3 linked regions of the Homo sapiens genome follow. The protein of the gene in region 1 interacts with the protein of each later gene in a pairwise test. Each region holds a gene or a part of one and is shown on either strand. Other genes may lie near its edges.

What was found. The genes of interacting proteins can lie anywhere in the genome.
Region 2: the proteins of PPL (region 1) and UPRT interact in binary tests that used the Homo sapiens proteins (3 or more experiments, as listed by UniProt).
Region 3: the proteins of PPL (region 1) and PBX4 interact in binary tests that used the Homo sapiens proteins (3 or more experiments, as listed by UniProt).

What each region holds. Positions count from the first base shown.
Region 1 is NC_000016.10:4,884,310-4,893,017, reverse strand, and holds part of PPL (periplakin), read left to right. Parts: intron 1-804; coding exon 805-983; intron 984-1,068; coding exon 1,069-1,207; intron 1,208-2,096; coding exon 2,097-2,290; intron 2,291-2,683; coding exon 2,684-2,834; intron 2,835-3,956; coding exon 3,957-4,040; intron 4,041-4,799; coding exon 4,800-4,916; intron 4,917-5,790; coding exon 5,791-5,883; intron 5,884-6,970; coding exon 6,971-8,708. UniProt on the Homo sapiens protein: Component of the cornified envelope of keratinocytes. May link the cornified envelope to desmosomes and intermediate filaments. May act as a localization signal in PKB/AKT-mediated signaling.
Region 2 is NC_000023.11:75,268,669-75,277,980, forward strand, and holds the start of UPRT (uracil phosphoribosyltransferase homolog), read left to right. Parts: upstream 1-5,416; 5' UTR 5,417-5,586; coding exon 5,587-5,972; intron 5,973-5,994; exon of another isoform or gene 5,995-6,090; intron 6,091-9,312.
Region 3 is NC_000019.10:19,560,317-19,567,499, reverse strand, and holds the end of PBX4 (pre-B-cell leukemia transcription factor 4), read left to right. Parts: intron 1-2,410; coding exon 2,411-2,567; intron 2,568-3,884; coding exon 3,885-3,991; intron 3,992-5,382; coding exon 5,383-5,475; 3' UTR 5,476-5,787; downstream 5,788-7,183.

The sequences.
Region 1 (8,708 bases):
GAGCTGGCAGGACTTGCATTGTTCCTGCACGGCTTGTCGATCTGACGCCTGGCATGGCACATGGGCTGTGGAATTCCGCAGGACTGGGTCACCGGCTGGCTTGACTGCAAACACGTTAGCGTTTGTATTTATAAACTCCAGGCCTCAGTGTCTTCAGTAGGATGGGTTGGCCCTGCTCACAGGGCAGTGGCGAGGACAGGGTGAGCTGATGCCAGGGGGGACGTGGAGGGGCCACCTCCCCCCACCTCCTTTCCTATACAAAGTCTCCCACATCCTCAAGGCAGCCCTCTGAGGCAGTGAGTAGCACTCCAATTTTACAGAAGAGGATCTGGGATTGGAGAAGTGCCATAGCCCCTGATGGGGCCTCAGAGTGAGAGCCAAGTCAGGGCGAGAGGATGCCGGTCTCGGGTGTAGCCTGACCCCACAAGTCCCTTCCTAAGCTGCTGGGAGTCGTCACACCCCCACCCGTGACTGGGTGGAGTCGTAGTACTCACCTCCCGGGGTTGCCGCAAAGATTAAACAGAAGCGTCCGCGTGCAGTGCTGAGGACAGCACAGGCCCGGCAGCTGCCTGGGTGCTTCTGGTGTCACTAGTCCATTCCACCTCAGCGGTTCCCTGGGATGCTCGTGAAAAATACAGCCCTCAGGCTGGGGTCCAGATGCCGGGTCAGAGCCCCAGAATGTGCCAGGCCTCTCCAGCTGCTTCCACTGTGCCTGATGTGGGAATCTGTGCTCACCCTGGGCACATCCTCAGGGGAAGGGGCTGCCTGGCTGTGTCCAAAACTGAGGGGCCCTGGTTCCCACAGAACATCACCAACGAGCTACTGCGGATTGAACCTGAGAAGACGCGGAGCACGGCTGAGGGCGAAGCCTTCATCCAGGCCCTCCCAGGCAGTGGCACCACACCCCTGCTGAGGACCCGGGTGGAGGACACCAACCGGAAATACGAGCACCTCCTGCAGCTGCTGGACTTGGCCCAGGAGAAGTGGGTGGCAGACAGGCAGCATGGAGGTTGGGGTGGGGTCAGGGGGCCAGGTGGGCATCCCCCGACGCCTGATTGGTGCTCTCAGGGTTGATGTGGCCAACCGCCTGGAGAAGAGCCTGCAGCAGAGCTGGGAGTTGCTGGCCACACACGAGAACCATCTGAATCAGGATGACACAGTGCCTGAGAGCAGCCGTGTCCTGGACAGCAAGGGGCAGGAGCTGGCGGTGAGTCTAGGGCCCAAGTCCTGGGAGTCCTTCTCTGAGCAGGTGAGAGCATCTGGCACATCCACCCGCCCGTCTGGATAGATGAGGACACCAGCATCCAGTCTCCCCAGGTTTGGAATGCCCAAATTGGGAACTGCAAATGGAGGCCCACAGCACAAATCCAAGCTATTCACGGGATCTGTGTGACTTACGGGATTTCGGGTGCCAGCATTTTAAGATCAAATATCTGCAATAGCCAGTGTAGTGGCACATGCCTGTAACACCAGCCATTCAGGAGGCTGGGGCAGGATTGCTTGAGCCTTGGAGTTTAAGTCCAGCCGCCTGGACAACGTTGCAAGACCCTATCTCTTAAAAAAAAAAAAAAAAAAAAAAAAGCATAAAGCACATAACAATCCATGTTCCCAGTATCTCTTGCTGAGCAGAGCTGGCATCCTGGGCTGCAGCTCAGAGGGCAAGTCAGTGGGCAGAGGAGCAGCTGCCTTCTCGGCCTGCTTACCTCGCAGTTGCCACGGGCCCCCTTCCCACACTGCCTGAGCACAGGAAACATTCAAGTCTGTGACCTGAGGCCCCTTATTCACACTCCCATCTCACGACTTGCTTTTGCCACAGCCTCATGACCAGACAGTGGCAGGCTGTTCTCGCGCAGGGCACGAGCTGCCTGCTGCAGGGTTTTTAGAAGTTAGCTTTTCAGGGCTTTGTTCATTGTTAAAAAACAGAAGATGGCAGAAGTGACCCAGGTTTGGGATGTACAGAGCAAGGCTCCGGTCCTTCCTACCTGTGGCCTTGCCCACCCTCCTACAGTCAGTGGCCCAGGGGCTTCAGTGGGTGTCATCGCCTGGCTCTGGGAGCTCTGGCCGTAGCACCGCCGTCTCCTCCTCTGCCCCGCCAGGCCATGGCCTGTGAGTTACAGGCCCAGAAGTCCCTCCTGGGTGAGGTGGAGCAGAACTTGCAGGCGGCCAAGCAGTGCTCGAGCACACTGGCCAGCCGCTTCCAGGAGCACTGTCCGGACCTGGAGCGCCAGGAGGCCGAGGTGCACAAGCTGGGCCAGCGTTTCAACAACCTGCGCCAGCAGGTGGAACGCAGGTGAGGGTGCGGTGGGTGGTGGCCATTTTTGTTTTCTGAGAATGCGATCTAATTCCCTCTAAGCAATGCTTTAGCCGTGTCCCACAGATTTTGCTGTTTTTCTTTTTGGTGAGTTCGTCAGATTCTCTGACGGCCCTGTGGTCTCTCTTTTGAGTCATGCTTACCTGGGTCCTGTAATCCACAATGGGCATCTCTGCAAGTCAATGTATATGGACCCACCTGGTTCTCCACAGTCCAACCTGACGTTCCCTAATGACCACCCACCCTGTGTGGGAGATACTTGGGGTATTTCTGGTTGTTACATTTGGTTGTTTCCCACTTTAAAAAAAAAAATGAGGGCTCGGTGAGGCATCTGTTTGCTGTGGCTGAGGCCTGAACGCTTTGCCTTGACAGGGCGCAGAGCCTACAGAGCGCCAAGGCAGCCTACGAGCACTTCCACCGCGGCCATGACCACGTGCTGCAGTTCCTAGTCAGCATCCCCAGTTACGAGCCCCAGGAGACAGACAGCCTCAGCCAGATGGAGACCAAGCTGAAGAACCAGAAGGTGAGATGGCCGTTTCCGCAGCCCCAGGCACACACTGGCAAGGGAGGGTCAGAGGTCAACAAGCCCCTTTCTGGGGAGCCAAGCCTTTGGGAGGTGGAGCAGGGCAGAGGCCTGCCACAGCTGTGTCCTCCCTGGGCCTCAGCTCAAGCTCCCAACACCCAACCCTCTGAGAACAAGAACCGAGTGTGTCGCTCACCTCTCCCAGCTCAGTGCCCCGCACAGGGCCTGGTGCAGAATGGACACTTGGCGTGGGTTGGCTATGTGAGTGAACAGCTACAGAATGAGGAGCCGCCTTTGTGGGGGAAATCCCATTTTCAAAGTTGGGACTCCTGCCTCCCCCATGCCCAACGCAGTGCCTTGGGGTGAGGGAGGAACACGGGAAGCCAATGGCTGAGATGCAAATCCCGGGTCCACCCCATCAGCCACATCCCCACCTCAGAAGCTTTCCTCACTCATAAGCTGGAGGTCACGATGCTTACCTCCTGGCATCGTTTGAAGATTAAATGAGATAATCTAAGTCAGACAGCAGAACAGTGTCTGGTGGTCCAAATCATCAGTAAACATTTGTTTCCTAGCAGAGATAATGATCTTGGCCCTTCTTCACAGAGCCTTAGAACTGCCTTTTGTGGCTGGGCGCGGTGGCTCACACCTGTAATCCCGGCATTTTGGGAGGCTGAGGCAGGAGGATCACAAGTTCAGGAGTTCAAGACCAGCCTGGCCAACATAATGAAACCAAATCTCTACTAAAAATACAAAAAAAAATTAGCTGGGTATGGTGGCAGGAGCCTGTAGTCCCAGCTACTTGGGAGGCTGAGGCAGGAGAATTGCTTGAACCCAGGAGGCTAAGGCTGCAGTGAGCTGAGATCGCGCCACTGTACTCCAGCCTGGGCGATGCAGTGAGACTGTCTCAAAAAAAAAAAAAAAAAAAAAAAAAAAAAAAAACAACAACAACAAAAAAACTGCCTTTTGCAATGAATAAAAATGTATACAAGGGAGCCATTCATCATACTTTGTGCTAGAGAAGAATAAATTCAGATTCTGAGATTTCCAGCTACTGCATCCATGGTTGCTTTTTTAAATTTTTTTTCTGGTTAGTTTTGATTTTTAAACTCTGTCTTACAGAACCTGCTAGATGAGATAGCAAGTAGGGAGCAGGAAGTACAGAAGATCTGTGCCAATTCCCAGCAGTACCAGCAAGCTGTAAAGGTGAGCCGGGAAACTTCCGCCCAAAGCACAAACAGCAGGGGTCTTATTCCACCGTGCCCTGGTCAGAGAAGCAGCAAGCACCGGCCCTGGCACATGGGGGTGGAGCTGGCCATCCGAGGCACTGCCGGCTGCTGTGCAAACTGGCACAGGCTTTTGGGAAAACAGCATGGTACTAGACATGGAATGCTGTAAAAGGGTTTTATACTCTGAAGCAGTAAACACTTTGGGGGAATTTATCCTTAAGGAAAAAGTACAAAAAAAAAAATGCAGGATAAACAACATTGTTGCAACAGCACTATTTACAATAGCAAAACTAGTACGCTGGAAAGGACTGGTGTCCAGTGGAAGGGGAAAGCTGCGTGAATCAGCACACATCCACCTGATGGATTATAAAGTCAGCAAGCTGGTAAACATGAGAAGAGGTGGTGGCAAGGTGAGACAGGGTTATGGTACGATGTTAAAAGCAGCAGCAGAATGTGAAAATCTCTAGGCATGTAGAAAGGCTGGGAGGGGAATTCAGGGGGCACTTCTTGTCTCATATGTTACTGAGTGATGGAGCTATGTACTGCTGAGATATCAGTAATTCTCAAAACCTCCTGGAAATCACTGCAGGGTGCAGCTGTGAGGAAGACCCACGCAGATTATAAAACCAGCACATGGCACAGGGCAGGTCTGGGTCAGCCTGAAGGGGTACAGGAACATGTCTGTCTCTTCTCAGCTGTTTTAATCTCCCCTCTGCCATGTCTCTCCCTCATGCAGGACTATGAGTTAGAAGCAGAAAAACTAAGGTCTCTTCTCGACTTGGAGAATGGAAGGAGAAGCCACGTGAGCAAGAGAGCCAGGCTCCAATCTCCTGCCACCAAAGTGAAGGAAGAGGTGAGTTCCATGGGCCAGGCGGCCTCGGGACTGAGGTGGAGGCCAAGCTGCCCTGCTCCCCAGGGAGCATGGTGTCACACGCTGGCCTCAGAGATGCACACACAACAGGGAAGCCACTGAGAGCCCTCCTGCATGCAAACAGGTTTGGTAAGAGATGAGGAACTTGTTCTAGGGCAGTGACATCAATATGCCTAGAAAGACAGCAAGGCCGGGCGCAGTGGCTCACACCTGTAATCCTAGCACTTTGGGAGGCCGAGGTGGGAGAACTGCTTGAGCCCAGGGGTTGGAGACCAGCCTGGGCAACAAAGCAGGACCCCATATCTACAAAAATATTAGCCAGGCGTGGTGGTGCAAACCTGTAGTCCCAGCTACTTGGGAGGTTGAGGAGGGAGGATCACTTGGGCCCAGGAGTTCAAGGCTGCAGTGAGCTACAATCACACCATGGCACTTCAGTCTGAGTGAAAGAGATTCTGTCTTTAAGAAATAAAAATTTTTGAAAATGCAGCTGAACAGAAGTGTCAGGGTCAGAACCATGGATCTGGGAAGTTCCTGTTTTGCTCACCTCAGTAAGTACAGTGGAGGGCTGATATTAGTCTCCTGTACACACAAGAGAGAACACTGGTGCTCTAAGAGGCAGAAAGACTTGCTCAAAGTCAGTGTGGCCAAGACCCTGGCCTGGATCTTCTGCCTCGAGATCCATTTTTCTCTCCACCGGTGAGGCTACAGTCTAACTCCAGGCAGGAGTGGGCAAGAGCTATGCCTCTACCCCCAAATTCCACACTTCTCAAGAACCACGTCCACGCTGTCTAGCTCTCTGTTGCTTACCCTGTTGACACCTGTTTGTTGACCGCTCTCCTAATCCTCTTCTCTGCAGGAAGCAGCACTTGCCGCCAAGTTCACTGAAGTTTATGCCATCAACAGACAGAGGCTGCAGAATCTGGAGTTTGCTCTGAATCTCCTCAGACAGGTAACTGATCTTAGTAAGAAATTCTACTTCAGGCTGTTCTAACAGGTGACAAATACAGACTCTGTCTTAGAGAAATGGTTTGTGAATTGATGGAAGTGTCCCCTTGCTAACGTTTCTGGGCAGGGCCAATGCAAAGACTGGCCCGAGCCAATGCTTCTACTGACATGAGAACTTATTCAACTCAGTAAACATCTGCTGAAAGTGAATGCTATTTTCAGCTGGGCATGGTGGCTCACGCTTGTAATCCCAGCACTTTGGGAGGCCGAGGCAGGCGGATCACCTGAGGTCAGGAGTTCGAGACCAGCCTGGCCAACATGGTAAAACTCCGTCTCTACTAAAAATACAAAAATTAGCTGGGCGTCGTGGCGCATGCTTGTAATCCCAGCTACTCAGGAGACTGAGGCAGGAGAATTGCTTGAACCCAGGAGGTGGAGGTTGCAGGGAGCTGAGACTGTGCCACTGCACTCCAGCCTGGGCAACAGAGCGAGACTCTGTCTCAGAAAAAAAGAAAGAAACAAAAGAAAGTGAATGTTATTTTCTGAAGTCCATGATGTTGATGACAGCATTGTTTTTTAATAGCAAGACACTGGAAGCAGTTCACTCTTCATCAGCAATGGGCTAAACTGCGGTCTGTCCAGAGAGCGGAAACAATGCTGCTGGTAAATCCTGAAGCAGCACTCTCTGTGCTGAGCTGGAATGAGCTCTGTAAGTGCAGTGAGCAGCAGGAATACCATTTGTGCAGGAGAGATAAACACATGGTACATACTACAGACAGATATTCTTGTGTGAGCACAGATAGCATCTGCAAGGCTGACAGACACGCCCTAGGACGGGGACCAGAGGTGGGAGACCGTGGTTTCATTTTAAACTCTTCCACAGCTCAAAAATGTTTTACCTGATTAAAAAAAACCCCAAACTAGTTGTTTGATCCTTTTTGAAAGTAACCCTAGAACTCTACAACTAACATGAACTGGCACTGAGGGAGTCCCTTGGGGACCACAGGACAGCCACTCTGACCAGGTGGGGACAGGCCCTACATGTGCTGCCAGAGCCTGGCTTTAACCTTGTCTTGTCTTCTCCATCACAGCAGCCGGAAGTAGAAGTGACCCATGAGACCCTGCAAAGGAATAGGCCGGACTCTGGAGTGGAGGAGGCGTGGAAGATCAGGAAGGAACTGGATGAGGAGACTGAGCGGAGGCGGCAGCTGGAGAACGAGGTCAAGAGCACCCAGGAAGAAATCTGGACCTTGAGGAATCAGGGGCCTCAGGAATCGGTGGTGAGGAAGGAGGTGCTCAAGAAGGTGCCGGATCCCGTGCTGGAGGAGAGCTTCCAGCAGCTGCAGCGGACGCTGGCAGAGGAGCAGCACAAGAACCAGCTGCTGCAGGAGGAGCTGGAGGCACTGCAGCTGCAGCTGCGTGCCCTGGAGCAGGAGACCAGAGACGGGGGGCAGGAGTACGTGGTCAAGGAGGTCCTGCGCATCGAGCCTGACAGGGCCCAGGCGGATGAGGTCTTGCAGCTGCGGGAGGAGCTGGAGGCACTGAGGCGGCAGAAGGGCGCCCGGGAGGCAGAGGTGCTCCTCCTGCAGCAGCGTGTGGCCGCCCTGGCTGAAGAGAAGAGCCGGGCGCAGGAGAAGGTCACAGAGAAAGAGGTGGTGAAACTGCAGAATGACCCCCAGCTGGAGGCAGAGTACCAGCAGCTGCAGGAGGACCACCAGCGCCAGGACCAGCTCAGGGAGAAGCAGGAGGAGGAGCTGAGCTTCCTCCAGGACAAGCTCAAGAGGCTAGAGAAGGAGCGGGCCATGGCCGAGGGCAAGATCACCGTCAAGGAGGTGCTCAAGGTGGAGAAGGACGCGGCCACCGAGAGGGAGGTCAGCGATCTCACCCGCCAATATGAGGACGAGGCTGCCAAGGCTCGCGCTAGCCAGAGGGAGAAGACGGAGCTGCTCCGAAAGATATGGGCCTTGGAGGAGGAGAACGCCAAAGTGGTGGTGCAGGAGAAGGTGCGGGAGATCGTGCGGCCAGACCCCAAGGCGGAAAGTGAAGTGGCGAACCTCCGCCTGGAGCTTGTGGAGCAGGAGCGAAAGTACCGGGGTGCCGAGGAGCAGCTCCGGAGCTACCAGAGTGAGCTGGAGGCCCTCAGGAGGCGAGGCCCCCAGGTGGAAGTCAAAGAGGTGACTAAGGAAGTCATTAAGTACAAGACTGACCCTGAGATGGAGAAGGAGCTTCAGCGGCTCAGGGAGGAGATCGTGGACAAGACCAGACTGATCGAAAGGTGTGATTTAGAGATCTACCAGCTGAAAAAGGAAATCCAGGCCCTGAAAGACACCAAACCCCAGGTCCAGACCAAAGAGGTGGTCCAGGAGATCCTCCAATTCCAAGAAGACCCTCAAACCAAGGAGGAGGTGGCGTCTCTGAGGGCAAAGCTCTCAGAGGAGCAGAAGAAACAAGTGGATCTGGAGAGGGAAAGAGCTTCCCAGGAAGAGCAGATCGCCCGGAAAGAGGAGGAGCTCTCGCGGGTGAAGGAAAGGGTGGTGCAGCAGGAGGTGGTCAGGTATGAGGAGGAGCCAGGCCTGCGGGCCGAGGCGAGCGCCTTTGCCGAGAGCATCGATGTGGAGCTGCGGCAGATTGACAAGCTGCGGGCAGAGCTGCGGCGGCTGCAGCGCCGGCGCACCGAGCTTGAGCGGCAGCTGGAGGAGCTAGAGCGCGAGCGGCAGGCCCGCAGGGAGGCCGAGCGCGAGGTACAGCGGTTGCAGCAGCGGCTGGCAGCGCTGGAGCAGGAAGAAGCTGAGGCCCGTGAGAAGGTAACCCATACGCAGAAGGTGGTGC
Region 2 (9,312 bases), on another chromosome or scaffold:
CTCAACAGATGCAGGGAAGGCCTTTGATAAAATTCAACAGCCCTTCATGCTAAAAACTCTCAATAAACTAGGTATTGATGGAATGTATGTCAATATAATAAGAGCTATTTATGACAAACCCACAACCAATATCATACTGAATGGGCAAATGCTGGAAGCATTCCCTTTGAAAACCAGCACAAGACAAGGATGGCCTCTCTCACCACTCCTATTCAACATAGTATTGGAAGTTCTGGCCAGGGCAATCAGGCAAGAGAAAGAAATAAAGGGTATTCAAATAGGAACAGAGGAAGTCAAATTGTCTCCGTCTGCAGATGACATGTTTGTACATTTAGAAAACCCCATTATCTCAGCCCAAAATCTCCTTAAGCTGATAAGCAACTTCAGCAAAGTCTCAGGATACAAAATCACTGTGCAACAATCACTAGCATTCCTATACACCAATAACAGACAGAGAACCAAATAATGAGTGAACTCCTATTCACAATTGCTACAAAGAGAATAAAATACCTAGGAATAAAACTTACAAGGGGTGTGAAGGACCTCTTCAAGGCGAACTAGAAACCACTGCTCAAGGAAATAAGAGAGAACACGAACAAATGGAAAAACATTCCATGCTTATGGATAGGAAGAACCAATATCGTGAAAATGGCCATACTGCCCAAATGAATTTATAGATTCAATGCTATTCCCATCAAGCTACCACTGACTTTCTTCACAGAACTGGAAAATCTACTTTACATTTCATATGGAACCAAAAAAGAGCCCACATTGCCAAGAAAATCCTAAGCAAAAAGAACAATACTGGAGACATCATGCTACCTGACTTCAAACTCTACTACCAGGCTACAGTAGCCAAAACAGCATGGTACTGGTACCAAAACAGATATACAGTCCAATGGAACAGAACAGAGGCCTCAGAAATAACACCATACATCTACAACCATCTGATTTTTGACAAATCTGACAAAAACAAGCAATGGGAAAATGATTTCCTATTTAATAAATGGTGTTGGGAAAACAGGCTAGCCATATGCAGAAAACTGAAACTGGACCCCTTTCTAACACTTTATACAAAAAGTAACTCAAGATGGATTAAAGACTTAAACACAAGACCTAAAATCATAAAAACCCTAAAAGAAAACCTAGGCAATACCATTCAGGACATAGGCATGGTCAAAGACTTCATGACTAAAACAGCAAAAGCAATGGCAGCAAAAGCCAAAATGGACAAATGAGATCTAATTATACAACAGAGCTTCTGCACAGCAAAAGAAACTATCATAAGGGTGAAAAGGCAACCTACAGAATGGGAGAAAATTTTTGCAATCTACCCATCTGACAAAGGGCTAATATCCAGAATCTATAAAAACGTAAATAAATTTACAAGAAAAAAACAAACAGCCCCATCAAAAAGTGGGTGAAGGATATGAACAGACACTTCTCCAAAGAAAACATTTATGCAGCCAACGAACATATGAAAAAAAGCTCATCATCACTGGTCATTAGAGAAATTCAAATTGAAACCACAATAACATACCATCGCACGCCAATTAGAATGGTGATCATTAAAAAGTCAGGAAACAACGGATGCTGGAGAGGATGTGGAGAAATAGCAACGCTTTTACACTGTTGGTCGGAGTGTAAATTAGTTCAACCATTGTGGAAGATAGTGTGGGGATTCCTTAAGGATCTAGAACCAGAAATACCATTTGACCCAGCAATTCCATTACTGGGTATATACCCAAAGGATTATAAATCATTCTACTATAAAGACACAGGCACACATGTGTTTATTGTATCACTATTCACAATAGCAAAGACTTGGAACCAACCCAAGTGCCCATCAATTTTAGACTGGATAAAGAAAATGTGGCACATAGATACCATGGATTACCATGCAGCTATAAAAACAGGATGAGTTCATGTCTTTTGCAGGGACATGGATGAAGCTGGGAACCATCATTCTCAGCAAACTAACACAAGAACAGAAAACCAAACACCTCATATTCTCACTCATAAGTGTGAGTTGAACAATGAGAACACATAGATACACGGAGGGGAACATCACATGCTGTGGTCTTTCAGGGTTGGGATGCTAGGGGAGGGATAGCATTAGGAAAACTACGTAATGTAGGCGATGGGTTGATGGGTGCAGAAAACCTCCATGGCACATGTATACCTATGTAACAAATCTGGACGTTTTGCACAAATACCCCAGAACTTAAAGTATAATAAGGAAAAAATAAACACTTTATGTGAAAAAAAAATCCTTAGGAATATATCTAAACAAGAAGGTGAAAGACCTCTACAAGGAAAATTCAAAACACTTCTGAAAGTAATCATAGACGACACAAACAAATGGAAACATAACCCATGTCATGGACGAGTAGAATCAATATTGTGAACAGGATCATAATGCCAAAAGCAATCTACACATTCAATGCAATTCTCATCAAAATACTAATATCATTCTTCACAGAATTAGAAAAAACAATTCTAAAATTCATATTGAAGCAAAATAGCCCATATAGCCAAAAAGAATAAATCTGGAGGCATCATATTACCTGGTTTCAAACTATGCTATAAGGCAATAGTTACGAATACAGCATGGTACTGGTATTAAAATATACCCACAGACCAATGGAACAAAACACAAAATCAGAAATAAATCCAAATACAGCCAACTGATCTTCGACAAAGCAAACAAAAATATAAAGTGGGGAGAGGACACCCTTTTCAACTAATGGTGCTGGAATAATTGGCTAACCACATGTAGGAGAATGAAACTGGATCCTCATCTCTCACCTCATACAAAAATCAACTCAAGATGGATTAAGGACTGAAATCTAAGACCTGAAACTATAAAAATTCTAGAAGATAACTTTGGAAAAACCCTTATAGACATTGGCTTAGCCAAAGATTTCATGACCAGGAACACAAAAGCAAATGCAATAAAAACAAAGATAAATAGCTGGGACTTAATTAAACTAAAGAGCTTTTGCACAGCAAAAGGAACAGTCAGCAGAGTAAACAGACAACCCATACAGTGGGAGAAAATCTTCACAATCTATACATCTGACAAAGGACTAATATCCAGGATGTACGAGGAACTCAAATCAGAAAGACAAAAACAAACAATCCCATCAAAAAGTGGGCTAAGGACATGAATAGACAATTCTCAAAAGAAGATATACAAATGGCCAAGAAATGTATTAAAAAATGCTCAACATCACTAATTATCAGAGAGATGCAAATTAAAACCACAATTTAATACCACCTTACTCTTGCAAGAATGGCCATAATCAAAGAAATTAAAAAATAGTAGATGTTGGCATGGATGTGGCAAACAGGGAACACTGCTACACTGCTGGTAGGAATGTCAACTAATGGAAACAGTGTGGAGATTCCTTAAAGAACTAAAAGTAGAACTACCATTTCATCCAGCAATCCCATTACTGGGTATCTACCCAGAGGAAAAGAAGTCATTATACAGAAAAGATAGTTGCACACGCATGTTTATAGCAGCATAATTCGCAATTGCAAAAACGTGGAACCAACCCAAATGTCCATCAATCAATGAGTGGATAAAGAAGCTGTGAGATATATATATATATACACATATATATGTGTATATATATGTGTATATATACATATATATGTATATATATATATACACATATATATATGTGTATATATATATATGTATATATATATGGAATACTACTCAGCCATAAAAAGGAATGAATTAATGGCTTTTGCAGCGACCTGGATGAGATTGGAGACTAATATTCTAAGTGAAGTAACTCAGGAATGGAAAACCAAACATTGTATGTTCTCACTCATAAGTGGGAGCTTAGCTATGATGGATACAAAGGCATATGAATGATACAATGAACTTTGGGGTCTTGGAGGAAAAGGGTGGGAAGGGCTTGAGAGATAAAAGACTACAAATAGGGTACAGTGTATACTGCTCGAGTGATGGATGCACCAAAATCTCTCAAATCACCACTAAAGAACTTACTCATCTAACCAAACAGCACCTGTTCCCCAATAACCTATGGAAATAAAAAAAAAATTATAAAAAAATCTGTATAGGCATGTTAAAAAAAGGAAGGACAGAAATACCATTCAACTCAGCAATCCCATTACTGGGTATATACCCAAAGGAACATAAATTATTGTTTTATTAAAGACACATGCACACATATGTTAACTCCAGCACTATTTACAATAACAAAGACATGGAATCAACCTAACTACCCATTAATGATAGAATGGATAAAGAAAATGTGGTACATATACACCATGGAATACTATGCAACCATAAAAAATAATGAGATCATGTCCTTTGCAGGGACATGGATGGAGCTGGAGCCTATTATCCTTAGCAAACTAACACAAGAACAGAAAACCAAATGCTGCATGTTCTCACTTATAAGTGGGAGCTAAATGATGAGAACACATGGACACATAGTGGGGAACAACACACACTGGAGCCTACTGCAGAGTGCATGGTGTGAGAAGGGAGAGGATCAGGAAAGACAACTAGTGGGTACTAGGCTTAATACCTGGGCGATGAAATAATCTTTACAACAAGCCCCCATGACAGAAGTTAACCTATGTAACAAACCTGCACATATATCCCTGAACTTAAAAGTTAAAAAAAAAAAAAGATTCTTGTATCCCATCTCGGATCTACAGAATCACAATCTCAAAAATGAGCCGTAAGAACCTGCATTTTAACAAGCTCTACAATTATTGTGGTACATACTGATGTTTGAAAAGTACTGCCCTAGACACTCTTACCTCAGGCCGTTATAGTGAGTCCATACACTTAAAAATAAGCGTCTTTCCAAGTACTTTAAAGATTCAAAATGATAGTGGATCTGAAATGCCGCCTGAGTCCCCATGACAACGTGTACACTGTGGGGCCCAACCAATAAAGATAAGAAAAGCTTTGGCGGTCAAGCATACTTGGGAAGCTGCAGTTTCTAGAACAGTCTAGTAGAGGACAGCCTCTTCAGCAGCCTGCTAGGCATTTTTTTACTTCTTCCTTCTGTTATGCAGACAAGCTAACTGAAGATGCGGTTACTGAGATATAATTTCTCTGCTAGGTCACAAAGTCTGAAAACATGGGCCTTACGTGTGTAACTGTGTATCATCACCTGCCACCCCCAGTTTTTCCTGGCTCTACTAATCACCCAAAGTTCTGAATGCAGAAGCCCCAGGGGCCCCCGGAAGATCCTTCAAGCTGGCATCCTTGGCCTCGCTGCGGGGGCTTAGCTACCTGTGGGAACCCACGTAGCAAGGGTGACTCAAAGGGTTAACAAGCAGTGGCGCCGCAGAGTGGCGGGGAGTGCAGCCAATAGGGTGTCTAGGCAGGCAGTACGTCTGGTGTGGGCGGGAGTGAGCCAAAGTGTGCTAAAGGAAACCAACAGCGGCCTAGGGGTGAAAGGACAGCCAGGGTTAGATGTTCTGAGGAGGCGGGAGCAACCGAGAGAGCACGTGAGCATCTGTCCTTTCTACCCGTTCCTCTTTATCTTTAGTGTTCAGTAGCAGCGGGGATAGCCCGGGGCCCGGTGTATGGCCACGGAGTTACAGTGTCCGGACTCCATGCCCTGTCACAACCAGCAAGTAAACTCTGCCTCAACCCCAAGTCCCGAGCAGCTGCGACCTGGCGATCTGATCCTGGACCACGCAGGGGGAAACAGAGCCTCCAGGGCCAAGGTGATTCTCCTCACGGGGTACGCCCATTCTAGCCTGCCGGCCGAGCTGGACTCTGGGGCCTGCGGCGGCTCCAGCCTCAACTCAGAGGGCAACAGTGGTAGTGGTGACAGTAGCAGCTATGACGCACCAGCTGGCAACTCCTTCCTAGAGGACTGCGAACTCTCCCGGCAGATCGGGGCGCAGCTTAAGCTGCTGCCTATGAATGATCAGATACGGGAGCTACAGACCATCATCCGTGACAAGTAAGCCAAGAGCGGAAGGGGAAAGGGAAGTGGAGGGTCTTGCAGGCTGTGGGCGGGGATTGGAAGTAAAAGGGCTAAGAGACAGTGTTCTTGGCCTTGGCAAACTTTGGAGATTGGGGTAAGACCTTTTATTTGGTGTGTGTGTGTGTGTGTGTGTGTGTGTGTGTGTGTGTGTGTCGTGTAACTCGAACGCCAACCTTCTCTTTCCAAGTTCCGGTGTCTAACATCACTTTGGGTGGGGAGGAAGACTTTAGGTAGCCTCTGGGCTCTTTGTCTCTCCCAGGAAAGACAACTCCTTGGCCATTCCAGGCAGGTAAACTCCCCTATACTATGTGGGCAGTGCTTGTCCACATGGTAAACCTATAACCCAGAAATGGTTACTATCCAAGGTTATGCACTACCACCAATCACCTCAGGTTCATAAATAGAAATAAAGCAATTTCAAGGAAATTCTATTCAGGCCCTGACCCTTTAGTATTTGCTACTGCAAACAAGGTCTTTTAGTCTTGGAGTTCAGGTTTACTTGATCACATGAAAGCTTATCGTCCAACTCTTATCATTTTTCACTGTAAACTCACAGAACATAGTTAATGGATCAAAGGGAGCCTAAAGGAGCCTTTGGCCCTTCCTAATCCCACAAACCAATGTAGCCAGAACTTCATGTTAAAATGTAATTTTGAAATTTCTAAACCTACGTTGTAAATGGGTTTTCTCCAGGGAAATATGTACCATGATGAACTACAGCTATTTTCTTTATTGGCAGCACTTTAAATGAGCAGCATATCAAAACACCCCTTTTTTAGTGGCAGGGGTTGGGGGGACATGCCTTGATCTTTTAAAAATGGCTACTGAATGACAGATGCCACTCCCTAAACCAGACTCTAGAAACCTTGTCTTACACTATTGTAATAATACTGTTTCTCTGCTTGCAGTTTTTCCTCTCTTCCACATGCACCCATACATTACTGTACAATCAATCTTCATAACATACATCTTTGATTCAGTAATTGCCCTACTCAGCAACCTTCTTTGGCTTCTCAGAGCCTACCAAATAAAGTCCAGGATCCTTAGCTTGATTGATATTTTTGAGACAGGATCTTTCTCTGTCACCCAGGCTGGAGTGCAGTGGTGAGATCACAGCTTACTGTACCCTCATACTTCTGGGCTCAAGTAATCCTCCTGCCTTAGCCTCCTGAGTAGCTGGGACTACAGGGACATGGCACTGCCCCCCGGCTAATTTTTTATTTTTTTGTAGAGATGGAGGTCTTGCTATATTGTCCACGATGGTCTTGAACTCCTGGCCTCAAGCAATCCTCGTGCCTCGGCCTCCTAAAATGTTGGGATTACAGGTGTGAGCCACCATGCCTGGCCCCCTTAGCTTGGGATGAAGGCCCTTCTTCATAGTTCCTAGGAACAATTCTGAAACATATCTGTTTCTGCTCTCATCTGGAATTCCCTGTGTCTCCTTTATGTACGTTCAGGATACTTATTCTTCAGGGTGAAACACAGCATTAAATAATTGTCCACCTCTGCCAAGAAGCTTCCCTTTAATCATTATTCCTGGCTTATCTTCCCTGGTCTTTTTAATGCAAGATTCACCTTCTTTTTCGTATATTGTTATTTTTGTATAGATCTTATCCTGCCTATGACATCTTGAAGGCAGAAATCTTTTACATTTTTGAATGCCGGCCATGCCTTGCAAATAATAGATGCTCAATTACTAGAGTTTTTTTGTAGCTCTTAAAATTATATTTATGAAACTATACTATTTTACTCTTTTTAATGAATCAATATTGAAAACTACTGTGGTTATGTTATCTAATAGACAAAATAGTGATCCTAAAAAATAGGAGGCATAGGTTTGCTGTAGTTGTGGTAGGGTAGGGGCAGCCAAAATAAATCTTACATATACAACAAAGAAAAATAGATGATGATTCTTGTTTCTATAGAGCAGAAGTTACTACGCTTGGGTCTTCGACTCCCTCGTACCAGTAGATGGGTTCAGGGCTTTAACAAACCCTCATAAATTAACTGGGAAATTTTACTCATATGAAGATTTTTAATAGTTGTTTTTAAATAACATCTTTATTGAGATATAATTCACAGACCATACAGTTCAAGAATTTAAAGTGTATAATTCAGTGGTTTTAAGTATGTTCACAGCTGTGCATTCATCACCACAGTTTTAGAACATTTGTCATCACCCCAGCAAGAAACCTCATGCCCATTAAACAGTCACTCCCCATTTTCACCCAACCCACCCAAAGCCCTAGACAATCATTAATCTACTTTCTATTTCTAATGGTTTGCCCATTCTGCACATTACATATAAAAAATGTCTATTCTGGACATTTCATTATCATACAATATGTGGTCATTTTGTGACTCATTTCATTTAGCATGTTTTCAAGGTTCATCCGTGTGGGATCTTTCCTTTTTATGATTAAATGATACTCCATTATATGAATATACCACAATTTGTTTATCCATCAGTTGGTGAACATTTGGGTGGTTTACCACTCTTTGGCTATTATGAATAATGCTGCTATGAACATTCACATATGTGCCTTTTTTTTTAGAGGGTGAGGATTCCTTAGTTTTTTAGATTTCACAAAGTGTCATGATAATGTAAAGGTGAAGTGCCCTTGCTATAGCGCTTGGAGAGGGAATGGCATTTAGCATTCACATATGACAAAATAATACCTGATTATATGTCATTAGTCAGAAAAACCTGGGTTATGTAGTAAACCTGGGTGTAAGTGGAATCCTTTTTTTTTTTTCCTCTAAGTTTGGAAGGAGACAGCAGGATCCAGAGAAGTGATTTAGGCAATATGTTTAGCATCTCTGTGCTTCACCTTTATCATTTGTAAAATGAAGATGTTGGTAAATATCACATGGAGCCCCTGGGAGGCTAAAACAAGATACTGTTCATGAATATTCATTATGAACTGTGAAGAGCTGTTCACATTTAAGGAATTTCAAGCCTCATGTTTGGATTTGTGCATGCTTCTAATTGCATTCATAAGTGCTGTCTTCTTGATTTGTCAGAAGACAGTAAAATGAATTTAACTCTATGTGGAATTCACTTTTTTATCTTGAAAATGAATACTGGGATATTGTAGATAATTTTTATCTTGTTTTGATATAGTATGGAAAGACCCACCACAATTTTTAGTAATGTATTGCTGCTTATTTAGGCTGGGGACATTGTTTTTAGTTTTGTTTTTGTTAACCAAATTAGAGGCTTTATATTCCCTTTATCTTTAAAAAATTGTCATCCTCTCTCACAAGACCTGTTTTAGCCCCTCTAGGAGGCTGGTTTAAGGTGCCTATGGTAAGA
Region 3 (7,183 bases), on another chromosome or scaffold:
GCTTGCTGCATGTCACCACAGCCCTCCCTACTTTGCAGTTGGAGGGGCTGAGTTTCTAGTCCTTCACCACCATGCTCTGCTCCAACCCAGGCTAAGTCCAGTCAAGTCTCTGTGACAGAGAGCAATTGGAACCCCTCGGGGTCACGCAGGCAGCAAAACATCCTGAGGTCATAGTCACATATGACTTTGCTCATCGGGATCTGCTGTGGTGTCAGAAACAAGGCCAGAGCTGGAGCAAGGGGCTGCGCCTCTGGGTCTTCAAGGCCCCTGGAGAAGCGTGAGACATTTGGCCCCCAAGGAACAATTGTCTGGAGGACAACCAGGGCTGCTTCAACCAGGATGGAGCCTCTGGGGCCTCCCATGTGGATCAAGAGAAGGCTGCTCACACCCCCGGGGTAGGCAGACACTATGTTTGGAACAGAGAGCACACAGACAGGGATCCTTCTTTTTATACTTAACATTGCAAGGATAATGTAAGTACACCAAATGTTGGCCAGGCATGGTGGCTCATGCCTGAAATCCCAGCACTTTGGAGGCCAAGGCGGACGAATCACCTGAGGTCAGGAGTTCGAGACCAGCCTGGCCAACATGGTGAAACCCCGTGGCTACTGGAAATACAAAAATTAGCCAGGCTTGGTGGCACATGCCTGCAATCCCGCTACTGGGGAGGCTGAGGCAGGAGAATCATTTGAACCAGGGAGGCGGAGGTTGCAGTGAGTTGAGGTCGCACCACTGCACTCCACACTCCAGCCTGGGTGACAGAGTGAGACTCCGTCTCCGAAAAAAAAAAAAAAAAAAAGTACAAAAATTAGCCAGGCTTGGTAGCACGTGCCTGTAGTCCCAGCTACTGGTGAGGCTGAGGCAAGAGAATCACTTGAATCTGGGAGGCAGAGGTTGCAGTGAGCTGAGATCGCACCGCTGCACTCCAGCCTGGGTGACAGAGTGAGAAAAAAATGTTTGAAGTAGCAAAGGTCATCCACAATCCTCTTCCATCCCTCAGCTGTTTCATTTCTGTGTGTTATTATACTATACGTTTATTTTACTTGCTTTGGGATACTGAAATGTGGCCCTGGATGGACGTCTCCATGCCTGTAGGAAGGCGCTGGCCCTGGGGTGCTCACCCATGTGAATCTGCCCAGGGGACATTTTTGTTGTCACGACTAGAGAAGGGAAGTGCTCCTGGCACCCAGTGGGTGCCAAGGATACCGCTCAGCACCCTGCAGTGTACAGGACAGCCCCCACAGAGCAGATGGAGCCCAAGCATCAGCAGTGCCACCAAAGGTGACAAGCCCCTCCCTGGGGGACTCCAGTGCCAGTTTGCAGTCAGAGCTGGGCTGATTCCACCTTGGCCATGGACTAGCTCCTTTTTCTCCTGCCTCTGCTTTCTTACAGCAGGGACGATAACAGCTGCCTCCCAGGTCCTCATGAGGATGAGGCAGAATGATATATGAGGCTGGGCCTGGAATCCCAGCATTTTGGGAGGCCAGGGCGGGAGGAACTCTCAAGCCCAGGGGTTTGAGACCAGCCTGGGCAACAGAGCGAGACCCTATCTCTAAAAAAAAAGAAAAAATATATTTTTTTTTCTGAGACAGGGTCTCACTCTGTTGCCCAGGCTAAATTGCAGTGCGATCTTGGCTCACTGCAACCTCTGCCTCCCAGGTTCAAGTGATTCTCCTGCCTCAGCCTCCCGAGTAGCTGGGATTACAGGCATGTGCCACTGTGTCCAGCTAATATTTGTATTATTAGTAGAGATGGGGTTTCTCCATGTTGTCCAGGCTGGTCTCGAACTCCTGACCTCAGATGATCCCCCCACCTCAGCCTCCCAAAGTGCTGAGATTACAGGCGTGAGCCACCACGCCCGGCCAAAAAACCTTTTTTTAATTAAAATTAAGAAAAATATATGAATATATGAGAAGTGCTTATCCTAGCACCTGGTACATTCCAACTACCCCTTCAGAGTTCACCTTGTTTTCATTTGATAAGTTTGGGATTCGATCGCAGTTACTGGGTCCCCAGGTCTCCCTGGCTCTCACTTTTCCTGAAGAGAACACGGAACGTAACCTGCCGCCTGCTGCATGGCAGCCAGAGGCGCTGTCCCTCCCGGCCCACCTCAGACAGTCTTGTTTTCCTTCCAGCCCCTTCCCAGGTTCAGGTTCCAGCAACATCCAGTTTTAGGCAGCAGAGTTCTAAGACACGCCAGCTCCAGGGTGTCCTCAACCCATGTGGACATCTCCCTGGGTCCGTGGTTCAGAGGGCGCCACCTTCTCAGTCCCAGACTCTTCATAGCCCCAGGGTGCAGTGTTGTCTTCTAAGGCAGTGGGAGCAACGGGCACCCCAGGGAACCCACAGACTGCGTCGTGTCTCAGAAGTCGCTGGGTCAGCTCCTCCAGTGACTCCTGTGTGTCCGCAGGTCTCTAACTGGTTTGGCAACAAAAGAATCCGGTATAAAAAGAACATGGGGAAGTTTCAAGAAGAGGCTACCATTTACACGGGTAAAACGGCTGTGGATACCACGGAAGTTGGGGTCCCAGGGAACCACGCCAGCTGCCTGTCAACACCTAGCTCCGGTGAGTGAGGCTGGCCCAGGGACAGTCATCTGTACCCATGTGGACGGCCACTGAGCTGCATCTGGGGAGGCCACAGTGGGACCACATCTCCCTTCCCCCAGTGGTCAACTCTGTGTAACTCTTTCTTCTGTTTCAACTGTGAGAGTTCTGTTCCTCTTGGCCATGATCCCAACCAACAGATACCTGTGCTTTGGGGACAGAATGGCGATACTAATAAGAAAAGACATGAAAGGTCTGGGTGCGGTGGCTCACACCTGTAATCCCAGCATTTTGGGAGGCCAAGATGAGTGGATCACCTGAGGTCAGGAGTTTGAGACCAGCCTGGCCAACATGGTGAAACCCTGTCTCTACTGAAAATACAAAAAAAATTAGCCCGGCATGGGCTGGGTGCAGTGCCTCACACCTGTAATCCCAGGCCGAGGCGGGCGGATCACGAGGTCAGGAGATAGAGACCATCCTGGCTAACACAGTGAAACCCCATCTCCACTAAAAATACAATTCACAATAGCAAAGACTTGGAACCAACCCAAATGTCCAACAATGATAGACTGGATTAAGAAAATGTGGCACATATACACCATGGAATACTATGCAGCCATAAAAAATGATGAGTTCATGTCCTTTGTAGGGACATGGATGAAACTGGAAATCATCATTCTCAGTAAACTATCGCAAGAACAAAAAACCAAACACCGCATATTCTCACTCATAGGTGGGAATTGAACAATGAGAACACATGGACACAGGAAGGGGAATATCACACTCTGGGGACTGTTGTGGGGTGGGGGGAGGGGGGAGGGATAGCATTGGGAGATATACCTAATGCTAGATGACGAGTTAGTGGGTGCAGCACACCAGCATGGCACATGTATACATACGTAACAAACCTGCACATTGTGCACATGTACCCTAAAACTTAAAGTATAATAATAATAAAAAAAAAGAAAGAAAAAACAAATTATCTGGGCGTGGTGGTGGGCGCCTGTAGTCCCAGCTACTTGGGAGGCTGAGGCAGGAGAATGGTGTGAACCTGGGAGGCAGAGCTTGCAGTGAGCCAAGATCGTGCCACTGCACTCAAGCCTGGGTGACAGAGCGAGACTGTCTTAAAAAGAAAAAAAAAAGACAAGCCATGAGGGGACATGAGTAGTGTGGTGGGGAGGGCCCGCTGGCCTGCCTGGGTGGGGGCTGAGGAGCAGAGGCCGGATGCTGAGGAGGGGCAGGAGCCACATTCGAGGCCTCCTGCCGGCTGAGGGGCTGGGTGGGTTCCACCTGAGGAGGCGCCACGACTCTGCCCACCCCGGCTCCCATCTCTTCCAGGCTCCTCTGGACCCTTCCCGCTGCCCAGCGCTGGGGACGCCTTCCTCACCCTGCGGACTCTGGCCTCTCTCCAGCCTCCTCCTGGGGGAGGCTGCCTGCAGTCCCAGGTGAGTCTCAGGCACTGTCCCACAGCGCCCAGGTGGGTGGTAGGTTCTCAGAAAGGGTCGTCTTGTCAGCCACCCCTCGGCCTTGGGGCAGCTTCCCCAGAGGTCCCAGCAGCCACACAGGCCATGCTGCGCGGCCACCTCTGGGGCACAGCTCTGCAGGGCCCCACTCTGTAATGACTGTGCCCTCCCCCACCTCCACTTGTCACCACGGCAGCCGCTGGGAACAGTCAGTGGGGATGAACCCCAAGATGAGGGCTTTGGCTGTGGAGGGGAAGGGCACCTCCTAGAGGACTGTGGGAGGACATGGTGTCCTTCCCTCGAGAGGGAGGGGCAGGCAGCCAGCAGAGGAGGCCGGAGGAGAGATGGGGCCTTCCCTCGGGCTCAGACCTCAGTGCCGCAGCTTGGCTGGGAAGGCAGCGAGTGGGGACCGTCTTGAAGACACTGAGGAGGCCCAGGTGTCATGTGCCCAGCACAGGCACGAGGCTGTGTGTGTGGTGTGTGCCAGGGCACTGCAGAGCCGGGTGCCCCTCCCAACTCACCACTCTCTCCCAGGGGTTCAGAGAACGGATGCCTCCTGTGCTGTCTGTGGGGTCCCACCTGGTCCTGGGAAGCACACGTCCCACACTGTCCTGCTGTGGCAGCTGCCCCCCATCACCATGCAGCCCCCAGCCAGGGACACACGTGAGGGGCCTCACCTTGCCCTTTGCACCCCTGGGACCTGACTACGCGCCAGCAGCTGTGTGTCCACCCCAGTTCAGAGCAGAGTGCCCCCAGGTGGTGCACCCGTCTGAGCTGCTCCCACACTCACGGGCAGAGCAGTCCCAGCCACTTCCTTAACCTGTACCGTGCCCACCATAGTGGGGGTGGGTCCTGTGGACAAACGTCTTAGCGCCGTTGGACGTGATGCCGTCTCTGCACTGCAGACAGAGCCCCCACCCCTTATGACAAGTGGTTGCCTCCCACCCTCCTTGCTGCCCAGCCAGGCCAGTGTTGGGCCAGGTTTCAGAGCCCCTTTTTCCCACCGAGTCTCACCATGACGCTCCGGGCGTCATCATGGGCTCCAGGCCTGACCTTGCCTCCCTGCCCCTCGCCGGGCAGGAGCCCTTGTTGTACCCGATGCCAGTCAGTCCTTTGCCTAAGCCCCAGGGAAGCCACTAGAGGCCAGTTTTCCTGCCGGGGAAGCTCGTCCATGTCCCATGTCAGGTGGCAAGGCCAGCTGTGACCCAGGACCGACCCCTCCATCCCTTCCCTCCTCCACTGAGCTGGAGGTCATCTGTGGATCTTTTCCAAGCCTTCCCAGGGACCCCTGGAGGCTCCGCCTGCAGCACGTGGGCTGGGTAGTCACCAGTCTCACGGCCACCCACTCTGATGCTCAGTCTCTGTCGTTTCAGGCCCAGGGTAGCTGGCAGGGGGCCACCCCCCAACCTGCAACTGCCTCACCTGCTGGAGACCCTGGCAGCATCAACTCCAGTACATCTAATTAAGTTTGGGGGATAAGCAGGAAAGAGCGCTGCGTGAGCTGCCATGTATCGCCAGCCGTTGCTTTGTTACTGAACGTGCCGCCGACGACCTCAGAAAACCCAGATGGGTGGTGGTGCCCATGAGCCCCTGCTCCTCAGCCAGGCCCGTGGCGCCGGCTCATGTGTCTGCTGCGACTCGAGATGGCCTGAAACGCCACTCATTCTCCCACTTCAGTTCGTTTTTTTGACAGTAATTTTATGGTAACGCTATGAATTGAATTGTCTGTTCTAGGACTGGGCACAGATTTTCCCATTAAAATTTTTGACTTATTTTAATTCCGATGTCTGTTTGCCAGATTTGTTTTGGGTGGTAGTTGACACCGGTCACAGCTGCAGTGTCATGTGTGCTGTGATTTTGCCACTCACCTGCGCCGCTCAGGCACAGACTCCCAACACTGTCTTCTGTGGGACCGTATCATTCTGTTCTGATTTTAAAATGTCCTGGCTGGGAGCAGTGGCTCATGCCTGTAATCCCAGCACATTGAGAGGTCGAGGTAGGAGGATTGCTTGAGCCTAGGAGTTTGAGACCCGTCTGGGCAACATAGTGAGACCTCGTCTCTACAAAAAAATTCTGCTTTCAGATTTTTTTTTTTTTTGGGGGACAGATTCTCGCTCTGTCACCCATGCTGGAGTGCAGTGGTGTGATCTCGGCTCACCACAACCTCTGCCTCCCAGGTTCAAGCGATTCTTCCGCCTTAGCCTCCCAAGTAGCTGGGATTACAGGTGCCTGCCGCTATGCCCAGCTAATTTTTTGTATTTTTGGTAGAGATGGGGTTTCACAATGTTAGCCAGGCTGGTCTTGAACTCCTGAGCTCAAGTGATCTGCCCGCCTCAGCCTCCCAAAGTGCTGGGATTATAGGCTTGAGCCACCGTGCCCGACCGCCCCCCACCCCAAAATTTTTTTAATTAGCTGAGCATGGTGGCGCATGCCTGTAGTCCCAGCTACTCAACAGGCTGAGGAGGGAGAATCACCTGAGCTCGGGATGTTAAGGCTGCAGTGAGCTGAGATCACGCCACTGCACTCCAGCCTGGGTGACAGAGTGAGACCCTGTCTCAATTATATATATTTATTTTATGTTCGGAGCTCAATTTTACTGGGAATTAGTTTTGCACTTTTTTCGGGTTTTGCTCTATTTGCTCTTTTGCTGTTTTTTTGTTTTGTTTTGTTTTGTTTTGTTTTTGAGACAGAGTTTTGCTCTTGTCGCGCAGGCTGGAGTGCAATAGCGCCATCTCGGCTCATTGCAACCTCCACCTCCCAGGTTCAAGCGATTCTCCTGCCTCAGCCTCCTGAGTAGCTGAGATTACAGGCGTGCGCCACCATGCCCAGTTAATTTTTTTGTATTAGTAGAGACGGGGTTTCACCATGTTGGCCAGGCTAGTCTCGAACTCCTGACCTCAGGTGAACCACCTGCCCTGGCCTCCCAAAGTGCTGGGATTATAGGTGTGAGCCACTGCGCCCAGCTGGTTTCTGTTTTCAGTTGAAATGTCATTAAAGACGATAAACTTCCAAAGCACTTTTCCTGCATACTGTGCGTGAGGTCCTGTTGGCCCACTGCTGTGCACGGCTTAGAGCTTGGCATCCCCCAATTCATGTTTGGGTGCTGGACGGCACCAAGAACCAGGGCCCTGGGCTCTGTGCAGCCTCGGGTGTTGCGGGGCCCAAGGCATGACT